7 linked regions of the Homo sapiens genome follow. The protein of the gene in region 7 interacts with the protein of the main gene of each other region in a pairwise test. Each region holds a gene or a part of one and is shown on either strand. Other genes may lie near its edges.

The links.
Region 1: the proteins of MIP (region 7) and TMX2 interact in binary tests that used the Homo sapiens proteins (3 or more experiments, as listed by UniProt).
Region 2: the proteins of MIP (region 7) and SGPL1 interact in binary tests that used the Homo sapiens proteins (3 or more experiments, as listed by UniProt).
Region 3: the proteins of MIP (region 7) and TM4SF18 interact in binary tests that used the Homo sapiens proteins (3 or more experiments, as listed by UniProt).
Region 4: the proteins of MIP (region 7) and AMIGO1 interact in binary tests that used the Homo sapiens proteins (3 or more experiments, as listed by UniProt).
Region 5: the proteins of MIP (region 7) and KCNJ6 interact in binary tests that used the Homo sapiens proteins (3 or more experiments, as listed by UniProt).
Region 6: the proteins of MIP (region 7) and STX2 interact in binary tests that used the Homo sapiens proteins (3 or more experiments, as listed by UniProt).

What each region holds. Positions count from the first base shown.
Region 1 is NC_000011.10:57,736,593-57,739,032, reverse strand, and holds part of TMX2 (thioredoxin-related transmembrane protein 2 isoform 1 precursor), read right to left. Parts: intron 1,426-2,440; coding exon 1,365-1,425; intron 1,248-1,364; exon of another isoform or gene 1,121-1,247; coding exon 1,007-1,120; intron 680-1,006; coding exon 603-679; intron 370-602; coding exon 263-369; intron 60-262; coding exon 1-59.
Region 2 is NC_000010.11:70,857,448-70,860,947, forward strand, and holds part of SGPL1 (sphingosine-1-phosphate lyase 1), read left to right. Parts: intron 1-166; coding exon 167-243; intron 244-1,923; coding exon 1,924-2,052; intron 2,053-3,500. UniProt on the Homo sapiens protein: Cleaves phosphorylated sphingoid bases (PSBs), such as sphingosine-1-phosphate, into fatty aldehydes and phosphoethanolamine. Elevates stress-induced ceramide production and apoptosis.
Region 3 is NC_000003.12:149,320,818-149,323,636, forward strand, and holds part of TM4SF18 (transmembrane 4 L6 family member 18), read right to left. Parts: intron 1,620-2,819; coding exon 1,439-1,619; intron 676-1,438; coding exon 661-675; 3' UTR 1-660.
Region 4 is NC_000001.11:109,506,928-109,510,883, reverse strand, and holds the start of AMIGO1 (amphoterin-induced protein 1 precursor), read left to right. Parts: upstream 1-1,156; 5' UTR 1,157-1,464; intron 1,465-1,884; 5' UTR 1,885-1,971; coding exon 1,972-3,453; 3' UTR 3,454-3,956. UniProt on the Homo sapiens protein: Promotes growth and fasciculation of neurites from cultured hippocampal neurons. May be involved in fasciculation as well as myelination of developing neural axons. May have a role in regeneration as well as neural plasticity in the adult nervous system.
Region 5 is NC_000021.9:37,619,458-37,622,957, forward strand, and holds part of KCNJ6 (G protein-activated inward rectifier potassium channel 2), read right to left. Parts: 3' UTR 1-3,500. UniProt on the Homo sapiens protein: Inward rectifier potassium channels are characterized by a greater tendency to allow potassium to flow into the cell rather than out of it.
Region 6 is NC_000012.12:130,791,676-130,794,250, forward strand, and holds part of STX2 (syntaxin-2), read right to left. Parts: intron 303-2,575; coding exon of another isoform or gene 194-302; 3' UTR 1-193.
Region 7 is NC_000012.12:56,451,858-56,455,984, reverse strand, and holds the start of MIP (lens fiber major intrinsic protein), read left to right. Parts: upstream 1-1,327; 5' UTR 1,328-1,371; coding exon 1,372-1,731; intron 1,732-1,937; exon of another isoform or gene 1,938-2,073; coding exon of another isoform or gene 2,074-2,076; intron 2,077-2,229; coding exon 2,230-2,394; intron 2,395-2,832; coding exon 2,833-2,913; intron 2,914-4,127. UniProt on the Homo sapiens protein: Aquaporins form homotetrameric transmembrane channels, with each monomer independently mediating water transport across the plasma membrane along its osmotic gradient.

The sequences.
Region 1 (2,440 bases), on a different chromosome or scaffold from region 7:
TAACATCAGTATAGCGTCCAACATCCACCTTCCCAAAATTTAGCCCTGTACAGTTGTATCTGAAAAGAATATATTATTTAATATGCTGAAAAAAAATAATGGATCAAGGAAAGTGGAAGTATAGATATTTAAGAGGGGAGAGGGAGATGCCTTTGGTTACCATGTGTGAAAATCAAGGCCAAAAGAAAAAGAAAAGCCAAAAACAGTGAGAGGGAAGGCACAGCATCTCCATTTCCACCATCCCTCCCTTTGCACTACTCACTTAAGGGAGAGGTCAGCATAGATAGGGGCAAATGATTGGCAGTCATTAGACCAATTGGCAAAGAACTCCACAATCCAAGTGACCCTCTTGTCCCGTTCTAGTTCCTCCTGCCAAATACAGGGAAGAAAAGTCAGCTGGATCCACATAGCCTCCTGGGAAGGTTCAGACTTTAGCATCTAATTCCTCATCCTGGTGTTCCCTCTCCCCCGGCTCTCATAATGAACCACAGTGCCCGTGACATCCATTTTGAAGCACTGTTGTTCCTCCTAGTGAATGGAGAGCACAACTACAAAATCACCCACAAGGGACCCAAGAAACAGAAAGGGGAAAGAGCACTCACATCAATGGTTTTATCATTGAAGTACTTGATATACTCAGGGCCCATATATAGGGGGGGTTTGCACGTCATCAGGAACACTAAATACAGAAAGAAGATGTCGAAGGAAACATAAAAAGCCTTACACAGGGAATTTACTTCCAAACCAACCCAAGGATTTCAGCCCCCAAATAATACACACTTGTGGATATATGTAGACCACCAACACATTCCCTACCTCTACAATAACAGTCTCTGTAAACTGTTATCATCTGAGCTACATATATAATTCATTAGGTATGAGATATGGAAGAAGGGTATGGAGAAACATGTTTGGGATTGCAACTGTTGGGACTGTGGTTTCCACAATCAAGTCTATCAACACAGTCTTACAAAAAAAAAAAAAGAAAGAAAGGCAGTCTCCTCACCTATGCAGAGTGTGATGTAAAGTAGGCCCATGCGAATATCCAAGCGGAAGAAAAGAATTGTGTTGGCCACTTTACTAAACATGAAAATGTTGCCTATATGTTGCTCCACAGTGACTGAAACACAGAGATGTCACAGGTCAGGCTGGGCTGTGCACTCCTATATCCCATTCTTTGTCCCTCTTCATGGGGCACTTTGAAATAGGAGACAGGGAGGGGATAGAAGTCCAAGTTCAAATTCAGCCTTGGAATTAAACGTAGGACAAATTTACCAAATGATTGCCACTCTCTTAACATGAAGCAAAGCACCTCCAAAGGGCATTAGATCTAACCTTGAGTCTGAGAAGTGAACTAAACTTACTGGATCTGCGGTTCTTCATCATCACAATGGCACTGAGAAACATCAGGATCTCCACTTCTCTCTGGAACAGAATCGAAGTATTATAACAGGAATGCAGTGACTAGAGCTAACTTAGGTGGGAAAGGGAACTAAATATGTAATAAAAACCAATAGCGATCCAAACTGGGAATGGGAACAATAAAGAACTGCAGTTAGGTAAGGTGTACGGGGATAAACATCAGTCAGAAGACCTGGATTCAGGTTCTACTCCTGCCACAAACTTGCTGGTGCTTTTCTTTTTGAGACAGAGTTTCACTCTTGTTGCCCAGGCTAGAGTGCAATGGCGCGATCTCGGCTCACTGCAACCTCCGCCTCCCAGGTAGCTGGGATTGCAGACATGCGCCACCACACCCGGCTAATTTTTTTATTTTTAGTAGAGACAGGGTTTCACCATGTTGGCCAGGCTGGTCTCAAACTCCTGACCTCAGGTGATCCACCAAAGTGCTGAGATTACAGGCACGAGCCACCGCGCCAGGCCTGCGGTGCTTTTCAACAAAGCACTTAATCCCTTAGCTTTGGTTTCCTCAACTGAACAGTATCTATTTCAAAATGCTACTGGGGGATTAAATGAGATAACAGATTAAAAAGAGTTGTATAAAGCATGATATGGTATAAAATCGTAAGATTATTAATATCAACTCAATGTGACGCTGGTAGAATAAAACTTTTCCAGGTAAGTTTTCTTGATAATAGCCCATTAATATAATATCTAGCTATTCCACATGTTTAATTTTTTTTTTTTTTTTGAGACAGTCTTGCTCCATCGCCCAGGCTAGAGTGCAATGGTGTGATCTCAGCTCACTGAAACCTCTGCCACCTGGGCTTGTGTTTCTCCTGACTCAACCTCCCAAGTAGCTGGGACTACAGGCGCACACTACTGTACCTGGCTAATTTTTGTATTTTTTGTAGAGACCGGGTCTCCCCATGTTGCCCGGGCTGGTATGGAACTCCTCAGCTCAGATGATCCGCCCGCCTCGGCCTCCTAAAGTGCTGGGATTACAGGTGTGAGCCACCGAGCCCGGCCCCCATTACTTAAT
Region 2 (3,500 bases), on a different chromosome or scaffold from region 7:
ACTCTATTGAACTTTTTTCTTGATTTGCTATAAGAATGCTGTTGGGTTTCCACTCAACATTTTTTTCTTTTGTATCCAGAGGAGTTTCTTCCTGTTTCTTCTTTATCAGAACCTGTCTTCCCAGAGATTCTTGCTTACTGACCAGTGACCTTACCTTTCTCTGCAGACGCCTTCTGGCAAGAGGGGAGAGCCTCTGGAACAGTGTACAGTGGGGAGGAGAAGCTCACTGAGCTCCTTGTGAAGGTGAGTGTCCAGTTCTTGAGGGAAGCCTGTGAGGTCTGTGCCAGTTTACATGACCTCCTTTTTTTCCCTTACTTTTGTAATTAGAAAAATTACTTAAGGAAAGCTTATTGGTACAATAAAACCATAAAAGTTTCTCTTCACCCAAACATAGGCGAATATGTATAATATTATCAAAGACATCTTCAGTCTGTAAAATAGTAAAATGTTATTTATGTTTTCAGTCTTTGCAGATGTCCTGTCTAGAAGGCAGATTACTAGGGAAGGTAGTCCTGTCAGATGAGATTTTTGTGGTGAGACAGATTTTGTTTGATAAGAAGAGATAAGATAGGGAAACTCTTTCATAATTTTCTCAAATCATGTGACCCAAGATGAGCAGTGGTCTCATGTATACTTCAAATAATTCTCATTCTTAGCTTCTTCCATTTCTAATCAAATTTATTTTTATTTTATTTTATTATTTTTACAGACAAAGTCTCACTCTGTCACACAGGCTGGAGTGGAGTGGTGTAATCATGGCTCACTTCAGCCTTGACCTCTTTGGCTCAAGTGATCCTCCCACCTCAGCCTCCTGAGTAGTTGGGACTACAGGCGTGCATCATGACACCCAGCTAATTTTTGTATTTTTTTGTTGGAGATGGGGTCTCACTCTGTTGCCCAGGTTGGTCTTCAACTCCCAGCCTCAAGTGATCCTCCTGCCTTGGCCTCTGAAAGTGTTGAGATTACAGCTGTGAACCACTGCACTCGGCCCTCATATTTATTTTTGAAACTCCACTTCATCATATAAAATTGGGGTTGTACTGATGATCTCTAAGGTCTTTGTGTTTGATTATTATAAATATGAAACTGTCCCTTACTAAATAAATATGGCAGGTTTTGCATAAGTTGGTGTAATGCTCTGATCTTCTGTGCTTAAAATCTTTCAGTAGCTTCCCATTATCTACAGGATGAAACTCAGGTTCTTATGCAGCAGAGAATACAAGTTTCTTCATGAGCCAGCTCCCACTTATTTTTTCTTAACTACTTCTCTTCATTTCCCACATAAACACTAATCCTGCCTTTTCTCTTTACTAAATGTGTCATGCTTTTACGTTGTTTTCCTTCCCTTCCATCATTCCTCTTGTTCCAAATGATGATTCCTACTCATCTCTCAAAGTTCCACTCAGCAGACACCTCTAGATCACTCAGGATGTTAGTTGTTCCCTCTTCAGGGTCCCTTAGCACTCTGTACACACACCTGATATTGCAGTCGATAACAACAGCTGCTTTGTGCCAGACACTCTACTAAGTGCTTCACATGCATTATGTTATTTAATTATTGCTAGAACACTAGAAGATAGCTACCATAACAACTTCTGCGTATGAAGAAACAACCTTAGATTATGTGACCTACACAGCTGAAAGTAATAGGCAAAGCTTAGACTTCCTCCTGGGTCGGTTTGGTGTTATAGTCTGCGCTTTTAACCATATTTATACTTCTTTCCTCATCACATTGTAAAATTATTTATTTACATGTCTGTCTCCTCTGCTATGTTTTGATCTTTTGGTTGAGGAATATATCTTATCTTTTTTTCCAGTTTATATTGTTGTGCCTAATACTTAGAAACTGTTGTTTAGTGCATGATTCTTTGTCCTGTATAGTGTAATAGTTTTGATTTCACATCTGCTTGCATTTTTTTGCAGGCTTATGGAGATTTTGCATGGAGTAACCCCCTGCATCCAGATATCTTCCCAGGACTACGCAAGATAGAGGCAGAAATCGTGAGGATAGCTTGTTCCCTGTTCAATGGGGGACCAGATTCGTGTGGATGTGTAAGTATATGCAAGGGGCATCCAATAGCCTTATTTTTTAGGTTAAAATAGAAGAGTTTTTAATAAATATTAATTATATTTTAAAAAATAAAAAATATTAAAAATATTTTACTACACAAGAAATATTTGATCATTGTAGAAAGGTCATTTTACTACACAAGGAATATTTGATCATTGTAGAAAGATCCTAATTAACTGCAGTTTTAAATGTTACTTGTAATTTTGTAACCTAGACAATGTCAACATTTTGGTATATATTCTTCTAGATATTTTTATTTTCACCTTTTTATTTTGAAAAACTTTGAACCTACATTGAGTTGCTAGGATGGCTTAAAGAACACCTTAGATTCACTAAATGTAAATATGTTGCCATATCTGCTCTCTACACTCTTTCCCTCCCTACCCGCTTCTTCCCTCATCCCCCACCTGCATACCTACCATTCCCCTATTTATCTGTGTATACTTTTGTTGTTCCATCCAGCAGTGTTTTTAGTGTACTTCTGGTTTTACCTGAGCCAAAGTTTAATTTATTATTTTGCTGTAAACTGAACCTCATTTAGTTGCTATTAGGCATAAAGAAAGGGGGAGGACATCATTATATTTAAAGAAACACATGAGGATTCTTTGTTTTACCTGTTCTTTCAAGTAGATGGTTGTTAGTTTTCGTAAACTATGATAGATAAACTTCTGTTTAGATCTGTTGTCTTTAGAAAAAACGAAATCTCAGGTTATGTAGGATAGATAGATTTAACTCAATATGCTGCAATGGTGTCCTAGAGGTGCTAATCCTATCAGATACTCATCATATTTGCAGTCATTATAAAGACTGCAGATTTAATTATTGAAGGGCCCATTCGAAGAGCACCTAATTTAGTTTCTTTTTTTTTTTCCAGGAAGCATTGTTTTTGTTTTGTTTTTCTAATATGTTGGCGCCATGAAAATCATCATGTTCAAATATTAGTAGTAATAAAGGTGATATGCCTGGCATTCATTTTCAAAGCAAAATACTGAAACTGTTAAAAACAGAACCACCCATAATACAGCAGCAGTTTCCCTTAGAGTACTGAGGTGAACAGGGTGACTTTCAGAGGGAAGATGATAATGTACTTACAGTATATTCTCCTATGCCATTAGACTCTTGAAGAACTTGTAAGAGGCCAGAGTGAATAGCCACAGAACAGTTTGGCCTTATCTGGTAAATTTGAAGATACATATATCTTATGACCCAGAAATTCTGCTACTAGGACATACTCTAGAAAAATTAGTACACATATATATCAGGATATATGGACATTAATATTCATAGCAATGTTATTCATGATAGCTAAAAACTGGAAGTAATTCAAATGCCTATCCACAGGACACAGATGAATAAATTGTGGAATGCTGTGTGTGCCTCAATCCATTGTAGCTCTTATTCAGATTGATGTACAAATTGCCTCATCCAT
Region 3 (2,819 bases), on a different chromosome or scaffold from region 7:
GGGAAGAAGGGTCATCAATGCCCCAAACCAAGCATAATTGGCATTTTGTTATATTTCCTTTTAGATTTAGTTTTCATCCTAAACTTTGACTATTAGTGTTTCATTTGCTTTAAATAGTTATATAGTAAACATGAATTTGTAACCTGCTTTTTGATGTAGCATTATTCATAATTTTAAAAACATCATTTGTAATGACTGTAATTTTACAACCATGTAGTACTCTTTATTTTTTATTTAATTTTTTTTTTAATATCAGAAAACATTTACAGTATGTACCACTCTTTACTTAATCCTTCCTCTGAGTTTAGAATTTTGGGGTGTTTCCAATTTTCCAGAATATTAAATAATGTTGCAATATACATATTTGCATAAAGGTTTCTCTCATATTCTTATTTACTTCCCTAGTACAGATTCTTGGAAATGGATTTGTTTGATCAAAGGGCAGAAGTATTTCTGAAGTTTCTGATGCATATTACTTAAAAAACATACTAAATGGAAGGGTGGTATACTTGCATGTGCAGTGAGGACTGCAAATTTTTTACAAATAAACACCAAATGCAGAAAGCACCATCATTTCAATATTGCCCTCAAGTCTACACAGTTGATATAATATTTAGATAGATGGCCATGTCTTGATAATGGAAAACATTTTGTCCTTATTCAAATGATTCCAGGCTATAGGAAAAAAGGAAAAACAAAGTGATTAAAGTTATAAACTTGGCTTGATTAGTAATCCGTAATCCAGATAGCAACTTAAACTTATATTTCATATTCAAAATATGATAGAACAGAAAAAACATCTCTTAGAAATTGCTAGGAAAGGTATTACACATTCTGTTGTTAAACAAAATACAAGCCATCTAAATTCATAATTTTTCTTCACTCTGGACTTCTTGATAGCAGTTTCAACCATAACTAAATTAACATTAGTATTTTAGCAGACGAAGTAGAAGTAGTTTCAATGGGATAAATACATATTTCCCTTCTTCTTCAAAAGCACTCCTATGCACTCGAGATAAAGGTTCATTAGTTGAATGTAGCAGCATTCAGAAGAGAAGTTATTTCAATGAGATAAGGTTCTGAGCCTTTGCTTAACTTATGAACAGGGAAATTCTTGATAAATGGTAAAATTTCATCATGCTTTGAGTTATCTCTATGTAGAACACTAAAACTTTGCTCATTCAAAACACTTATGAAGCCTTACCATACAACAAGAAATGCAGATTTTACAATTACTGAGTTGATTCAACCCTTATAGATAAGCCAAGACACATTGGGATATCAGAAAAAATTGAGATATTAGAGCTTGAATAAAGATGAGGGCAATAGAAATGGGGGGAAAGTGATGGAATTCTAGAGTCTTTTCAAAAAGCCTCATTGAATCCTGGGAAGTGGGGGAAATATGGATGAGCTACAGGTGCCCATGAGAATCTGTTACCTGGAAGATCACTGAATAGCTTCCACACAGTATCTTGGATAGTTGCATGACTACTCTGATGAGGCAGATGATCACTTGAAGCCCACTGAGGGTTATGAGAATGGAAAATAAAATGATGTTCCACTCCACAACATGTGCAGGTTCCAGGCACTGAATCCATATGCTAGAATCTGTAAGGAAACTGAGAGAGACCCATGGCCAAATCTACATACTGGGTCCAAGGAAGAAAGCTACAAGCATTTGTATGTTTGAGAAATTACTGTATAACTAAAATATATAGTTATTAGATATGAATTAATACATTTTAAAAACCATTCAGATACACATATTGGACATATCTTATGCATAGCACTGAGCTAGATACTTAGTGTGTTATAAATGTTGTGCTTGCCTTATCACCCCCATGGCCTCTTTGTTTTTCTTTCTCCCTCTTCCATTTCTTTCCTACTTCCTTCTTTTTTACTCTTTCCCCACCTTTATTTATTTTCTACTTTCTAATGCTCCAGGAAATAGAGGCACTCTGAGAATTTCTTTATATTGTTAATGGCTCTTGTCTCCAATGGGAAAGAGCACAGAATATGAAATCAGAATTCCTGGATTTGGGTCTGCAGGATGTTGAGCAAAGAACTTTACCCCTCTGGCCTCCAGACTTTTTTTTTTTTTTTTGAGACGGAGTCTTGCTCTGTCGCCCAGGCTGGAGTGCAGTGGCGCATCTTCGCTCACTGCAAGCTCCGCCTCCCTGGTTCACGCCATTCTCCTGCCTCAGCCTCCCAAGTAGCTACAGGCACCCGCCACCACGCCCGGCTAATTTTTTGTATTTTTTTAGTAGAGACGGGGTTTCACCGTGTGAGCCAGGATGGTCTCGATCTCCTGACCTCATGATCTGCCTGCCTCACCCTCCCAAAGTGCTGGGATTACAGGCATGAGCCACCGCGCCTGGCCCTCCAGACTCTTATCTTGATAATGGGGTTAAAATATCTAACCCCAGAGTTATTGTGAATATTTGGTAAGAATGTGTATACAAACAGTTTGGAACCTGTAAAGTACAATACAGATGTGGCTTTCTGTTAAATTTCCCTAAACCTATCTCATACCCCCATTTACCCCTATCTCCATCTCAGCTGCCAGGGAAATGAGTCCCTCCAGATCCCTCCTCTAGACTGTTCCTAGTACATGCTCTGCACAGATCATCTAGCAATTTAAAACAAGATGACTTGCAATGTTGCAGGAAGTCGGGGACCCCAAATGGTGGGACTGGCTGGAGCCGCGGCAGAGAAACATGAATTGTGAAGATTTCATGGACATTTATCAGTTCCCAAATAATACTTTTATAATTTCTTATGCCTGTTTTTACTCTAATCTCTTAATCCTGTTATCTTCA
Region 4 (3,956 bases), on a different chromosome or scaffold from region 7:
ATGTGACAGATATAAATTCTTTTTAAAACTCTTAGCAAGCTAATCTACTGAGACATTAATTTCAGTCTTGATCTTGCTGTTATAAGAGACTGGAACAAATAAAAAGGTAATTTCTTATGGTCCACCATCTCAAGAACAGCTAACATCTTGAATGATAAGGTCTAGGCTCTTCCTGCATCTCTCTCTTTCCTCACCCCCAAACCCAAACAACATACACTAGTAACAGCTTCTTGTTGTTTCAGGGGCCACCCTAAAGAAGAAACCCCTCCACCTCCACCACTGGCCTTCATCTTGAGGATTAGGTAACAGAGAAACTATGTTGCAATTGCTCCATAAGGGGAGTGGGGAGCTGGCACTGGTTTAGGAAGAAGGCAAGTGGCCAGACCTAAGGGCTGAATGACTTCCTCCGGGCTGGGAAGGGTTTCGGAGTTTCCAGGAATGGAAATTGTCCCTGGCTTGTATGCAGTCCGTGTGTGTGTGTGTGTGTGTGTGTGTGTGTGTGTGTGTGTGTGTAGCAGGTGGAGTGGGGAGAGGTGCATGAGGTGTCTGTAAAGGGGTGTTCTGGGGCCTGGGCTCACCAAACACCCCCTTTCCCCTCACTCCTGCGCAGCTGGCTTGCAGGCTAAGGAGCTGTGCCCTTCAGTGGTACCTCAAGGGTCATGAACTAGTAGCATCAAGACGGGGGTGGGGTGGGGGGAACCCCTCCCCCAATTTTTGAGACCCCACAGCCACAGAGAGAAGGGAGGGGGAACCTCAGAATGTGACTAATGAATTTCCCGCCAACATTGGCAGGCGGGAGCTGAGCCAGATTTCTTCAATTTGCGAAATTAAAAGACATGTGACGCCTCTTGCCCGAGTAGGTGCAGCGAATTCACTTTAGTTAGACTTTTCCTGAGAGCCGGTCTGTGTAGCGAGAAGGGTGCTGGGAGATGGGGGAATGGGGGATGGAGGAAGTTATAGCGGAGCCTAAGGGGCCAGTGCCGCTCTTCCTGCCAATTTTCGTCTTTAGCTCAGCGTCCGGAGCTCGCTGGTTGAGGGAACGACCCCGCGCGCGTCCGCCCGGCCGGCTCCGACACAAACACACGCACGTGCGCCCCGCCCCCGCCGCGCGCACGCGCCCCGAGGCTCCGGCGGCGGCGACGGGCGCGCGCGCGGTGCTCGCTGCCCCCACGCCGCTCCCTCCGCTGGGATCGCTGCGCCTCCGGCTCCCCGCACCGATCCGCGCCAGGCCTGCGGACCTGGAGGCAGCGACCGCGGTCGGTGGGCTCCGGCGGGCTCAGCGGTCGAGGCGGTGGCAGGGTGAGCGGAGCGGGGCCCCGCAAGTCCCCGGGAGGCGACGGTGCCGGGCGCGGGCCCCTGCGTAAGGTGGGCGCAGTGACAGGCCGGCCGGTGAGGCGCCGCCGGGAGAGGCCGCGACGGAGCTCCCAGACCGGCCATGGGCTGAGACACGTCCTCGCCGAGCAGGTGCAGTGACCGGAGGCCCCGGGGGGAGCCCGCCCCTACAGGCCCCGGGGACCCTCAACCCCGACCGGACGCGTCCTACCCAGCCCGGTGCCCTGTTGACCTTCCCTCAGCTCCTCCCAAAAGGCACACCGACCCCACCTCCAAACCCTGCCCGTGCCATCCCTGTGACTCCCAGCAGTCCCTGCCATCCTGTGCATACCTGCAGCCTGCACCCCTGTGACCCCAGCCCAGTAGGCCCTCGGGCCACCTCCTCTTCGGCCGATATTTACAGCCCACTGCCTGCACAGTGCCTGGAAACTACCCAGCATCTCTCTCTCCTAGCCCAAAGGGGGTGGAGGTAAGGGTGGGAGGGGAAGTGGGAGAGGGTGTCCTTCCCTCTGGAGTCCTTGGTGACCACAAACCCATCCTCTTTCTCTCAAGTGACCCTTCCGTACCCCACCAGAACATGCCCGGGTGACCTCCTCCCAGATCTTCCTTGTGGCCTTCCTCGCCCACTCCAGTGACACTATGCACCCCCACCGTGACCCGAGAGGCCTCTGGCTCCTGCTGCCGTCCTTGTCCCTGCTGCTTTTTGAGGTGGCCAGAGCTGGCCGAGCCGTGGTTAGCTGTCCTGCCGCCTGCTTGTGCGCCAGCAACATCCTCAGCTGCTCCAAGCAGCAGCTGCCCAATGTGCCCCATTCCTTGCCCAGTTACACAGCACTACTGGACCTCAGTCACAACAACCTGAGCCGCCTGCGGGCCGAGTGGACCCCCACGCGCCTGACCCAACTGCACTCCCTGCTGCTGAGCCACAACCACCTGAACTTCATCTCCTCTGAGGCCTTTTCCCCGGTACCCAACCTGCGCTACCTGGACCTCTCCTCCAACCAGCTGCGTACACTGGATGAGTTCCTGTTCAGTGACCTGCAAGTACTGGAGGTGCTGCTGCTCTACAATAACCACATCATGGCGGTGGACCGGTGCGCCTTCGATGACATGGCCCAGCTGCAGAAACTCTACTTGAGCCAGAACCAGATCTCTCGCTTCCCTCTGGAACTGGTCAAGGAAGGAGCCAAGCTACCCAAACTAACGCTCCTGGATCTCTCTTCTAACAAGCTGAAGAACTTGCCATTGCCTGACCTGCAGAAGCTGCCGGCCTGGATCAAGAATGGGCTGTACCTACATAACAACCCCCTGAACTGCGACTGTGAGCTCTACCAGCTGTTTTCACACTGGCAGTATCGGCAGCTGAGCTCCGTGATGGACTTTCAAGAGGATCTGTACTGCATGAACTCCAAGAAGCTGCACAATGTCTTCAACCTGAGTTTCCTCAACTGTGGCGAGTACAAGGAGCGTGCCTGGGAGGCCCACCTGGGTGACACCTTGATCATCAAGTGTGACACCAAGCAGCAAGGGATGACCAAGGTGTGGGTGACACCAAGTAATGAACGGGTGCTAGATGAGGTGACCAATGGCACAGTGAGTGTGTCTAAGGATGGCAGTCTTCTTTTCCAGCAGGTGCAGGTCGAGGACGGTGGTGTGTATACCTGCTATGCCATGGGAGAGACTTTCAATGAGACACTGTCTGTGGAATTGAAAGTGCACAATTTCACCTTGCACGGACACCATGACACCCTCAACACAGCCTATACCACCCTAGTGGGCTGTATCCTTAGTGTGGTCCTGGTCCTCATATACCTATACCTCACCCCTTGCCGCTGCTGGTGCCGGGGTGTAGAGAAGCCTTCCAGCCATCAAGGAGACAGCCTCAGCTCTTCCATGCTTAGTACCACACCCAACCATGATCCTATGGCTGGTGGGGACAAAGATGATGGTTTTGACCGGCGGGTGGCTTTCCTGGAACCTGCTGGACCTGGGCAGGGTCAAAACGGCAAGCTCAAGCCAGGCAACACCCTGCCAGTGCCTGAGGCCACAGGCAAGGGCCAACGGAGGATGTCGGATCCAGAATCAGTCAGCTCGGTCTTCTCTGATACGCCCATTGTGGTGTGAGCAGGATGGGTTGGTGGGGAGATTCTGCCCCAGGAGAGGTAATGCACCCCTGAAGGATATGAGGGGATGGAAGAGAGGGCTGGCTGCCCAAGGGAATGGATTCCTCCTGACCTCAAGGGAATTGGTCCCAGGTACAACAGAGAGCAAGACCCCAAACAGGGCGTGGCTGCCACGATTTTCAAATGGGGGTATATTAATCCTCAGGCAAATGCTACACCCGTACCCAAAGCCCTGCCAATTCTCAGTGTGGTAGAGGAAGAGAAGCATGTCTGAGTTGGATGGGAATGAGGAAGGAGTGAGGGGAAGAACAGATTCCCTAAACTTTCATGAGGTCATCCCTAGCTCCTTAAGAGAAAAACATTTAGAAAAAAAAATTTTTTCTATCTCTGCCCACCCACACCTGTGATGTTGTGTGTGTTGGGGGAGCTTCCACAGGAGCCACACTGGGGAAAAGCTGTAGTATCTTCTTTGTTTAGCAAGTCAAACTTCACAGCTGGGGAAGT
Region 5 (3,500 bases), on a different chromosome or scaffold from region 7:
CTTTTGGTTTTCCATAAGAAGCATTTAGTTCTTTAATTACACATTAAACTTCTAGCTTAGTGGCTAGAGAGAGCAAAAACTAGCGCAATTAAACATGAGCTAGTTCCAGGTTCACGTTCATCACCTTGATCAGTTGTAAACTGTAGGCTAGAGAAAACTAGCAAGAAAACAGAGGGAGACATCTGGGCCACCTATTTAACTCTCCTCCAAGAGAGCCTAAGAGAGAAGCCATGTGGAGGAGCGAGGCGGGTTTGATGTGTGGCAACCACTGCAGGTCTGGGCTGCTTTGCTGAGCAGAGACTGGCAGCCTGAGCTATGTACATCATCCAACGCCTGAGGGTGCCACTGAAGCAATATTTCAGCGGCTGGGCTGGGAATGCCCATTTCTCTGTAGTTCATTAAGGAGTAATTTTACTGTATCCACTTTCTGAGTTGACCGCTAGATCCTGGCTGGCTGTTGACTCTATTTGCCACTCTGGAGGAATGGCATGAAAAGGAAGGATTCTTCCTTTGAGACCCTAACTGAATGACTGGGCTCTCTAAGTCTTGTGAAGCAGTTGTCTCTTTGACAACCGAAAAAAAAGAGTTATGTTATTTTGAACAGACTTATGAGTGACTTCAATAATTTATGCTAGAAAAAAAGTCATTCTTCTATATTGCCTAGGACTCTCTTAAGAGTACAGTACAATATTTCATAGTACTTAGTACTCTTACATACTATTATTAATAGTACTATTACTAGTACTTAATAGTACCAATAGTACTTAACAGTACAGTACAGGGGTCAGCAAACTTTTTTTATACAGGGCCAGATAGTAAATATTTCAATCTTTGCTGGCCACACGGTCTCTGTTGTAATTACTCAGCTCTGTGAGTGCATGTGGAAGCAGCCATAGGCAATACACAGACAAATGGCTGTGGCTGTGTTCCAATAAAACTTTGTTTGTGGACATTGAAATTTGAATTTAGGATGATTTTCACATGTCTCAAAATATTCTTCTTTTCTTTTTTTTCCCCCAATTATTAAAAAATGTAAAAATTGCTCTTAGCTCACAAGTGGTACAATAACAGGCAGCAGGCCAGATTTTTTTTTTTTTAGCAGATTTGGTTTGCTGAAATTTTTTGTAGTAAAAATAGCCCACAGCTTAGGGCCCTGTGACCTGGATTTGAGACAAGGAGCTATGATTCACTGGCCTTTAAACTTGGCCAATTTGCCCAAACCCTAGTTTTCCCTCTATAAAATGTAAATTATAATACTCAACCTCTCATGGTGAATTAGAATGAAATAAGATAATTTGTACAAGTGCTCTTAATGCTCTCAAACACCACACCATGTTGGGTAAAATATTGTTGGGTTATTATTATATATTCTGTGATTTATCAAAATCTCTTAGCAGCCTTCTGACAGAATTTTGACTTCTAGATGACACTCTGCATCTAAAGCACTCAAGACATTAAAGGCAGAAATATTAGGAAGAGGCGTGCTTTACTCAATTTTAAATTAAAGGCTAACATTTTCTTAGATACCGGTTGGCCATAAAGTTCAGAAACAAGATAATGTTATTTTAGTGTATTGTAAAGTAATATCAATGAATCATCTATTATGTATATGTTACCTATGTTTTTCAATGTTAAAGCCATCCATTGAAAGGAAATCATCCTTGAAGATAATGTTTACAATATATAGAGGACACTGAACTTTCAACTACCTTCCTGACATTTTTAAATCATACAGAGTATCACCCAAGTCAAGGAAAGAAAGACTGAAGAGTAGCCAGACTATTAGCAAACTGTTTTGGAAATGATTTACTATGAGTATTTTAATTGTATTCTCTCAGCAAATCAAATGATTTCCCATTCTTCTGGTGAGTTCAGGTAGTTTTCTAATAGCATTCTTATGCCCCCTTTCTCTGTCCACCAGTTCCCACCTTTGTAAGCAGTTTCTAAATATCCCAAAGACACTGGCTTAAATCTAAATAAAAAAGCAAAGGGGAAAAAAGTAAGAAAACTGAAATGTAAGAAAATGTAGGGATGGAAAGCATAAGAATGTTGCTCTGGAGAATTCAAAATTTAGACTATTAAATGAAGTCATGAATAATTTTTAAATTGGAGTGCAGTGAAAAATAGACATTTCAGAGCCCTAGCTTGGTTAGACCTGCAAGAGAAAATTGTGCTTAAGAAATAGGTTGACATTTGCAGCTGGATTTCTGTTAGGGAACATAAGGTACTGAACTAAAACAATAGAATTGGAACTGGAGAACCAGGGAAACAGCAAAGGATGGGGATAGATGGAAGAACGGAGTGGGGGAAGAGAGAGTTCTGCCTCATGGACATAGAGGGGATATATGCTGGAACAACCAGGCTGGAAGGCCATGTTTGAAGGAACAGAAAAGTTGACATTTGCTATGTTAATGTAAAAGAGTATAGCTTACCCAGGGGACAGCTAAAACAGAAATGATTTTATTGGTTCCATAAAGTTGATTTATAAATGAATGGGTGCTCTTCCAGTTGGAGAGCACGTTGGGGTGGGTGGAGGTGAGAATCCGAGGAACTCAGCAGCCTTGTGGTGGGGGGTCATGCTTGCAGCTGAACCTGCCCTTCCATCCAGGAGCACTTTGTTCTGTCAAATTGGGGTCAACTGTGGCAAACCATAACCCTTAAATTCCAAATTCTTATCTGGCTCACGGATCCCACCATGCTTTATGGAAAAATGACTCAAATACATTAACCAAACAGACCAAAGGATCTAGTTGAGAGTGATCTTCATTAGTTATGGATACTGTTGTATTAAAAGAGACTTTTAAAAAATTCTCATTGCACTTGGTTTGCTAATGGAGTGACTGAGGGAATGAGGACTGGATATTGCGGAATAGAATGAGTGGAAATTGTGGGGTCAATTTTGTTGAGCTGTCTTAATGGAAAACACCATTCACTCACTACTCGCTGCTTAGAAAATCAGTCTCAATGAACTTTCAGTTCCAAATTTTAACAGTTGACACAAAATACACTGTTAAACTGTGTTAACAACTGTAGAAAAATAGACATGTTTGATAGGGACATTCTAGTAAAAGGTTCTTCAGGAGCATCCCCATGTAAAGATTCAGAGGCTCACATTACAAAAACGAGATTTGGTTCAAGTTCTGTCTCCAACTACATTGACAACAAAGACAGTGAGAAACAGGGAGAGACCTCACATCTGGGTGCCCGTCACAGACACAGAACTGACAGGTGCACGTGGCCAACGTGTTGTCAAGGCTCTTCGTTCAGTTGTGCTAAAGGGCAGGCAAGCAGGGATGAGGCCCTGAGCTGCTTGCTCTTCCAACCAGACACGGGGGTGTGCGCTGTCCTTTAAACCTTAGCAATGGAATTAAAAAGGCCCAGTGAGTCTTCAAGAGCTAAATTAGAAGACATTTTGCCGCCCCTATTCCATCTTGTTTTGTGCCTGCCATGGCCTGCCCTGCGACCCTGGCAAGGTTGCAGGGGAGCTCCCCAAGCCAAGA
Region 6 (2,575 bases), about 74 Mb from region 7:
TCTGTAGTGTGTCATTCAGGGTCACGCATCACACCCACTGTGCTTACGGCGCTGTCACTGAACAAGACGTTCGGTTGTGCTTCTTCCGTGAACTCATACATTACAAGGTCAGCACTCGATGCCGGGTTACAGCGTCTGAGATTCATTCACGAAATGACAGGATGCTGATTTGGTTGCAGATGTGGTCTGAGTCTCAAGGATAAATGGCTCTTGGGATATGGTTGCTAGGACAATGTTGTTGCTAGGATAATTCCAAGGATCACAAGCAAAACAATTACACAAATAATAATGAACATCAATTTCTGCAAGATAAAGAAAAACATTAATTTGCAATGTATCAAAGAAATCAACAATGGCATTTGCTAACTAATCCTTCTGGGATTTGGGATAGTTTAAAAAATACATCCATTATCAAGAAAGGACTCCTCCATGTCATAGAAAAGAATGTGATCTTGGCTCACAGCAACCTCTGCCTTCCGGGTTCAAGTGATTCTCCTGCCTCAGCCTCCCGAGTAGCTGGGACTACAGGAACCCGCCACCACGCCCAGCTAATTTTTGTATTTTTAGTAGACACGGGGTTTCAGCATGTTGGCCAGGATAGTCTCGATCTCTTGACTTCGTGATCCACCCGCCTCAGCCTCCCAAAATGCTGGGATTACAGGCGTGAGGCACCAGGCCCGGCCGACACTTTCTTTTAATCATAATAAAACTCCAGGATTGCTTTTAATTGGATGAATTACACATATTTGTAAAACTTTAAACGAATTTCTTGTTGGCTGAAAAATCCTATTTTTTCTTTCTTTTCTGAAAGGAGGTGTCACTCTGTCGCCCAGGCTGGAGAGCAGTGGTGCAGACATGGCTCACTGCAAACACATCCTCCTGGACTCAAGCAATCCTCCCACCTCAGTGTCCCAAGGAGCTAGGATGACAGGCATGCACCACCATGCCCAGCTAATTAAAAAATATGTTTTTAAGAGATGGGGTCTTGCTATGTTGCCCAGACTAGTCTCGAATTCTTGGGCTCAAGCGATCTTCCTGCCTTGGCCTTCCGAAGTGTTGGGATTACAGGCATGAGCCACTGCACCTGGCCTTATCCATTTTTTACATTTAAATATGACAAATGTGTAAGAAATCAACAAGACATTCATTCATTCTTCTACTGCACTGATGGTCTGGAAGCAGGGTGCGACACAGCATTTAACTTTTTTAAAATTAACAAGTATCCTCACACAAGGCAAAGCGAGACCACCTTTGGCTTAATAAATGGAGTCTCCTCCAGGAAGCTTGTCTGAGGGAAGGAAAGGAAGACACAACAGGAGGCACCGCGCTGTAGGACTTTGAGTTCTCTTTTTGAACAGCAGAGATCCATCATTTTAATTACAGTTCCAAATGTACGAGTGCTTTTACCTAAGAAATCCTGTTTGCTGAGCCTGGACAGTTCCAAGACTGCCGGCTCAGTCAGTTATACAGGGTTATCAAGAGGCGCATGGCAGGCCCCGGTGAGCCTCCCAGTGACTCCTCAGGACCGGGGAGAGCTGCCTGCAGGAGGGCCCCTCCCTCAAACTCTGGTTCCCTGTTAACATCACGCACATTTCCTGCAAAGCCCCAGCCACTCTCTCATCCTCTATATGCGCTCCTACGCCCCACTCTCAGCACCTTCCTAGAGAAACCTCTTCTTCCTTTTCTCTGTGATGCCTTCCCTCCCTCCAGAGGGAGGCGCGCGCCCTCCCGCTCAGCAAGTGAGTGTGCTGGCAGCTGGGCCACCTGGAGTCAGCTCCACGCAGCGTGCTCTCATCTCCTGCTGCTGTTGTGCTGCCTGCCACGTGTCTGGGTGCTCGATGTGTGTGCACTTTCCTGCCACATCTGGCTTTCAGGATGACTGTCAACTACATGGAGTCTAGGGTACAGGACTCAGGAGTCATCTAATCTCCTGGTGACAGCGAGAGTGGAAAGGGTACACCCTGGGGAGTCCAGCTCCAGGTCTGGGCCAGGGCCCTCTCACCGAATACCTGTAAGACTCCACCTGTCTCCTTAAAGCAGCCCATCCCACCCATGCTCCGGGGTGACAGGCCTGCACCTGGCACACCCTGCAGGGAGGGGCAGCAGCCAGCCCCAGGAAGGCCAATTGCTAAAGGATGAAAGGCTATGTTAATATTTTAAAAGTGAAGTTAAGGACATTAACCACTGCCTTCCTATGCAAAGATAACTGCTGGTATTCATTTTGGTCTGCTTTTTATGAATGAGGATCCTTCTATGTTCATTCTTATTTACAGACACTAGGGTGAAATGGCCAGCCAGGCCCGGGGCACAGGACTTCAAGCCCCACTCCCCAGGGGTCACACTGAGAGGAGCCTTCTTTTAGTCAACCTTAATGCCAAGTAGTGCCCATGAAAAGTCGCGCATTTCACTGTGTCCGCGCTACAAATTGTAATTTTATCTTTAGTGTAACCACATTAAACTAACCATATTATAGCTACTAGGAAAAAACTCAGAAAGTACATGTTAGAATCATGAAAATATTGAAAAATACTACTATAACAATGAAGAAAAATCACGTACAATATTTTCAGCAAAG
Region 7 (4,127 bases):
CCTCTACCTTCACTATAACTCTCTTTCTGTCCATCCCCAAGCTGGGTATTATGAGGAGAAAGCACAGCCCCTGATCTGTGTTCCTTCTCTCTCCCCACAGGTGTACTGGGTAGGACCCATGCTGGGCACCATTCTTGCAGGCCTCACCTCGAATTTCTGCTCTCTGGTGCTTCATGAGAAAAGTTTGTGGCCGGTATGACTTGCCACTATGTGGAGATGGTAGAACCTATCAGTATGTCCCATTCTACCTTCTCCATCACCACACAACCCCACGCCTAGGTCCCAAGTCCCTCACCAAGCCCGAGCACAACTGAACCTCTTTCCCCAAACTTTCCTTCCCCATATTATCCTTTTCCCTCTCTTTGATCGGCTGTTTCCCCAGATCTGATCCCAGCACACCCATACCTTTCCCTGGGGATCAAGGCTTAGGGTGTGCTGATCATGGCTGTATTAAAGGACATTAGACCTTCCCATTGCTTCATAGCCATGACTGTTTCCTTCCTTTCAGTACTTCTTGCTATGACCATGTGAGTTAGGAAAGATGAAATACAAGCTGATTCTAAGGTTTAACTACGAGTCCCTTTCTTATTCCTATCCCTCCAACCCCACTCCCAGCCCATGCAGGGATGATAGTGTCTTCTCTCTGTCGGTCCCTGTAGTTTAAAAAGCCAGGCCTAGGGTTTGAAAAGGGAGGTGCTGTCATGGACTGGGGGTAGGGAACCCGGGCTCAGAGAAAGCCAGACGCAGCAGAACTATTTTGTCCCAGAGCTGCAGGGTCCACAGATTCCAGCCCAAACTAGCCAATGGGAGAAAGGCTTCTAATCCCTGGGAACTAAAGAATTCTCTTTAGTTATCCAACTTCCCTGCTGAACCCCACTCCTTACCACTCCCCCCAACCCTTACCCCTGGCAGACTCAGAGGAGGCTGAGGCCCCCAGGAGCTCAGCCCCAAATGCCATGAAGTGAGCTCAGCTTGATGGACCTTCCAAAGAGAGCTGAAGAGTATTCTAATGTTGATGTCAATCAGGACAATGAACCCCAATTTTGACACACACAGAAGGGCAGACTCTTCCAGTCCTGCTGTTCTTCACCCCCACTTCTCGTAGTCTCTCTTGCTGTGACCCCAATCCCACCCTCACTGCCATGGCTCTCTCGGCTCATCTCCCAGTTGAGAAAGGCGGGAAAATCCAGCATTTTTACCATGTAGGGGAGGGGACTTAGCCCTCCACAGCTGTGAAGGGGTTAAGAGGCTGGGCCTGCTACCTCAGCCTGCCCCTCCCAGGGATTAAGAGTCCTCTATAAAGGGGACTGTCCACCCAGACAAGGCCATGGGGGTAGCAGGGACCCAGGCACTGTGACCATCCCCCCTGCCATGTGGGAACTGCGATCAGCCTCCTTTTGGAGGGCCATATTCGCTGAGTTCTTTGCCACCCTCTTCTATGTCTTCTTTGGGCTGGGGTCCTCACTGCGCTGGGCTCCTGGACCCCTGCATGTTCTGCAGGTGGCTATGGCATTTGGCTTGGCCCTGGCTACACTGGTGCAGTCTGTGGGCCACATCAGTGGAGCCCACGTCAATCCTGCAGTCACTTTTGCTTTCCTTGTGGGCTCCCAGATGTCCCTGCTCCGTGCCTTCTGCTATATGGCAGCCCAGCTCCTGGGAGCTGTGGCTGGGGCCGCTGTGCTGTATAGCGTTACCCCACCTGCTGTCCGAGGAAACCTAGCACTCAACACGGTAATGGTTGGCTGAGAGGGGATGGGGAACCTGGTGTCCTGTCTCTCTATTGCCCTGACTCCCTGACTGGTGCAGGTGAATCAGCTCCCCTGGGGTCTGGGACAATATGTGCATGTGTGAGCATGTGTGTGTTGAAGTGGTGAGGATTGACAGGTGGTTTAGAGCTTTAAGGAAGGCATAGGGCCCTGGACTGAGAATTAAGAAACCTGAGTTTGAGTTTCAGCTTTCCTTCCAACTCCTTGCAGGTTCTTAAGGAAACTTATTTTACCTTTCAAGGCCTCAGTTTCCTCATACATGTAAGTGGCTGCAATCATTTCCATCATGAAGGAGCACTGTTAGGAGATGGTAAGATGCAAATACAATGATTATGAAGGGGGTTGTATTATCCTTCCTCTCCACGGACCTGATGCCGTAACGAGATCCTTGCCGGGGAAGTCTTGAGGAGGTAACACTGTGGCAGCCCTCCTGAGCTGTCTCTCTTCTTCTTCCTTTGCACAGTTGCACCCTGCGGTGAGCGTGGGCCAGGCAACCACAGTGGAGATCTTCCTGACGCTCCAGTTCGTGCTCTGCATCTTTGCCACATACGACGAGAGGCGGAATGGCCAACTGGGCTCCGTGGCCCTGGCCGTTGGCTTCTCCCTTGCCCTGGGGCACCTCTTTGGGGTAAGCAGGAAGGAGAGCAACTTCTCATTCAAGGATTCCGGGGCCCCTAAACCTTTCCCAACTTTTAAGGGTTCTTCCTGCCTACTTCACTGTCAAACATGAACATTGTCCATTGCACTCTCTACTGGCACAAAGGAATCAACTCTGCCCTATCCCTCTCTTGTGACTGCTATATCTAGTCCTTCTTGACCCCAAGGTAGAAATGAACGTATCATGGCTAGACATGGGCTTTGCCTATGGATCCATAGTCTGTTCCCAGACAGGGCATCAGTTGCCCTCACCCCATTGCAGGAACCCCTGGAGAGTCATGCAGGCTGTCCCTCTCCACTTGCTGCTGGCTGGAGAAAAGATGGCAGCTCTCAGGGGCAATGTGGGTTGTGGGGAGAGAAGCTGGGGTGCAGTAGGGGGGTGTCTCAGTTACAACTGTCTCTTTTGCAGATGTATTATACTGGTGCAGGCATGAATCCTGCCCGCTCCTTTGCTCCTGCCATTCTCACTGGGAACTTCACTAACCACTGGGTGAGTGAAGGGAGAGGGGCAAGATCCTGAAGCCCTTCTGGATGGTTGTGGACTGCAGGTTCCAGGCTGGATTCCTGCTTTCCTTCTGCGTGTGTTGGCTGCTGTACCAGCACTCAGCTAAGGGGGCTGTCAGAGAGTTTGGCATGCCTGTGTGAGCAGGATTCATGATTTTGCTAGAAGGAGAGGCTCTTGCTCATATTTTTCCTTCTCTGGTTAGTCAGGGAGTATGCACTGAGTATTCACTGGTTGCTGAACTAGCGGGTATGAAGAGAGACAACTAAATATGAGCAGAATAAATTCTGCTCTCAGAGATCAAGATGTGTTGTGAGCACAGATGGGCCTCAGCCCCATTCCAGTTCTAATACGTTATCGGCTTTGTGTGTGACCATGGGCAAATAATCACTCTGTGCTTCAGTTTGTTTTACTATAAAATGGGACATTACGAGAAATGTGTGAAAGTTATATGTGAGAAACATTTAGCACAGAATCTGATATAAAGTAAGCACTCAATAAATATTGGTTATGTTGATGTTGTGCAAGCCAAACATATGGAAATAATTTAAAAATTTTTCAAAGCTGTACACCCATTTTCATAACAGCATTATTCACAATAGCCAAGAGGTAAAAGCAACCCAAGTGTTCCTCAGTGGATGAATGGATAAACAAAATGTGGTATATACATAAATGGAATATTACCTGTAAAAAGGAAGGAAATTGTGACACATACCACAACATGGATGAATCTTGAGGACATTATGCTAAGTGAATAAGCCAGTCACAAAAAGACAAATACTGTATGATTACATTTATATGGGGTATTTAGAGTACTCAAATTCACAGACGCAAAGTAGAAGGATAGTTACCAGGGGCTGATGGGGGTGGGGTGGAATAGGCAGTTGTTTAATGGGTATAGAGTTACAGCTTTGCAAGATGAAAAAGTTCTAGACATAGGTTGCACAACAATGTGAATATACTTAACACTACTAAACTGTACACTTAAAAACATATATATATTTTTTTGAGATGGAGTCTCCCTCTGTCACCCAGGCTGGAGTGCAGTGGAGCTTGATCTCAGGATCTCAGCTCACTGCAACCTCCGCCTCCTGGGTTCAAGCAATTCTCCTGCCTCAGCCTCCTGAGTAGCTGGGATTTCAGGCGCCTGCCACCACGCCCAGCTACTTTTTGTATTTTTAGTAGAGATGGGGTTTCTCCCT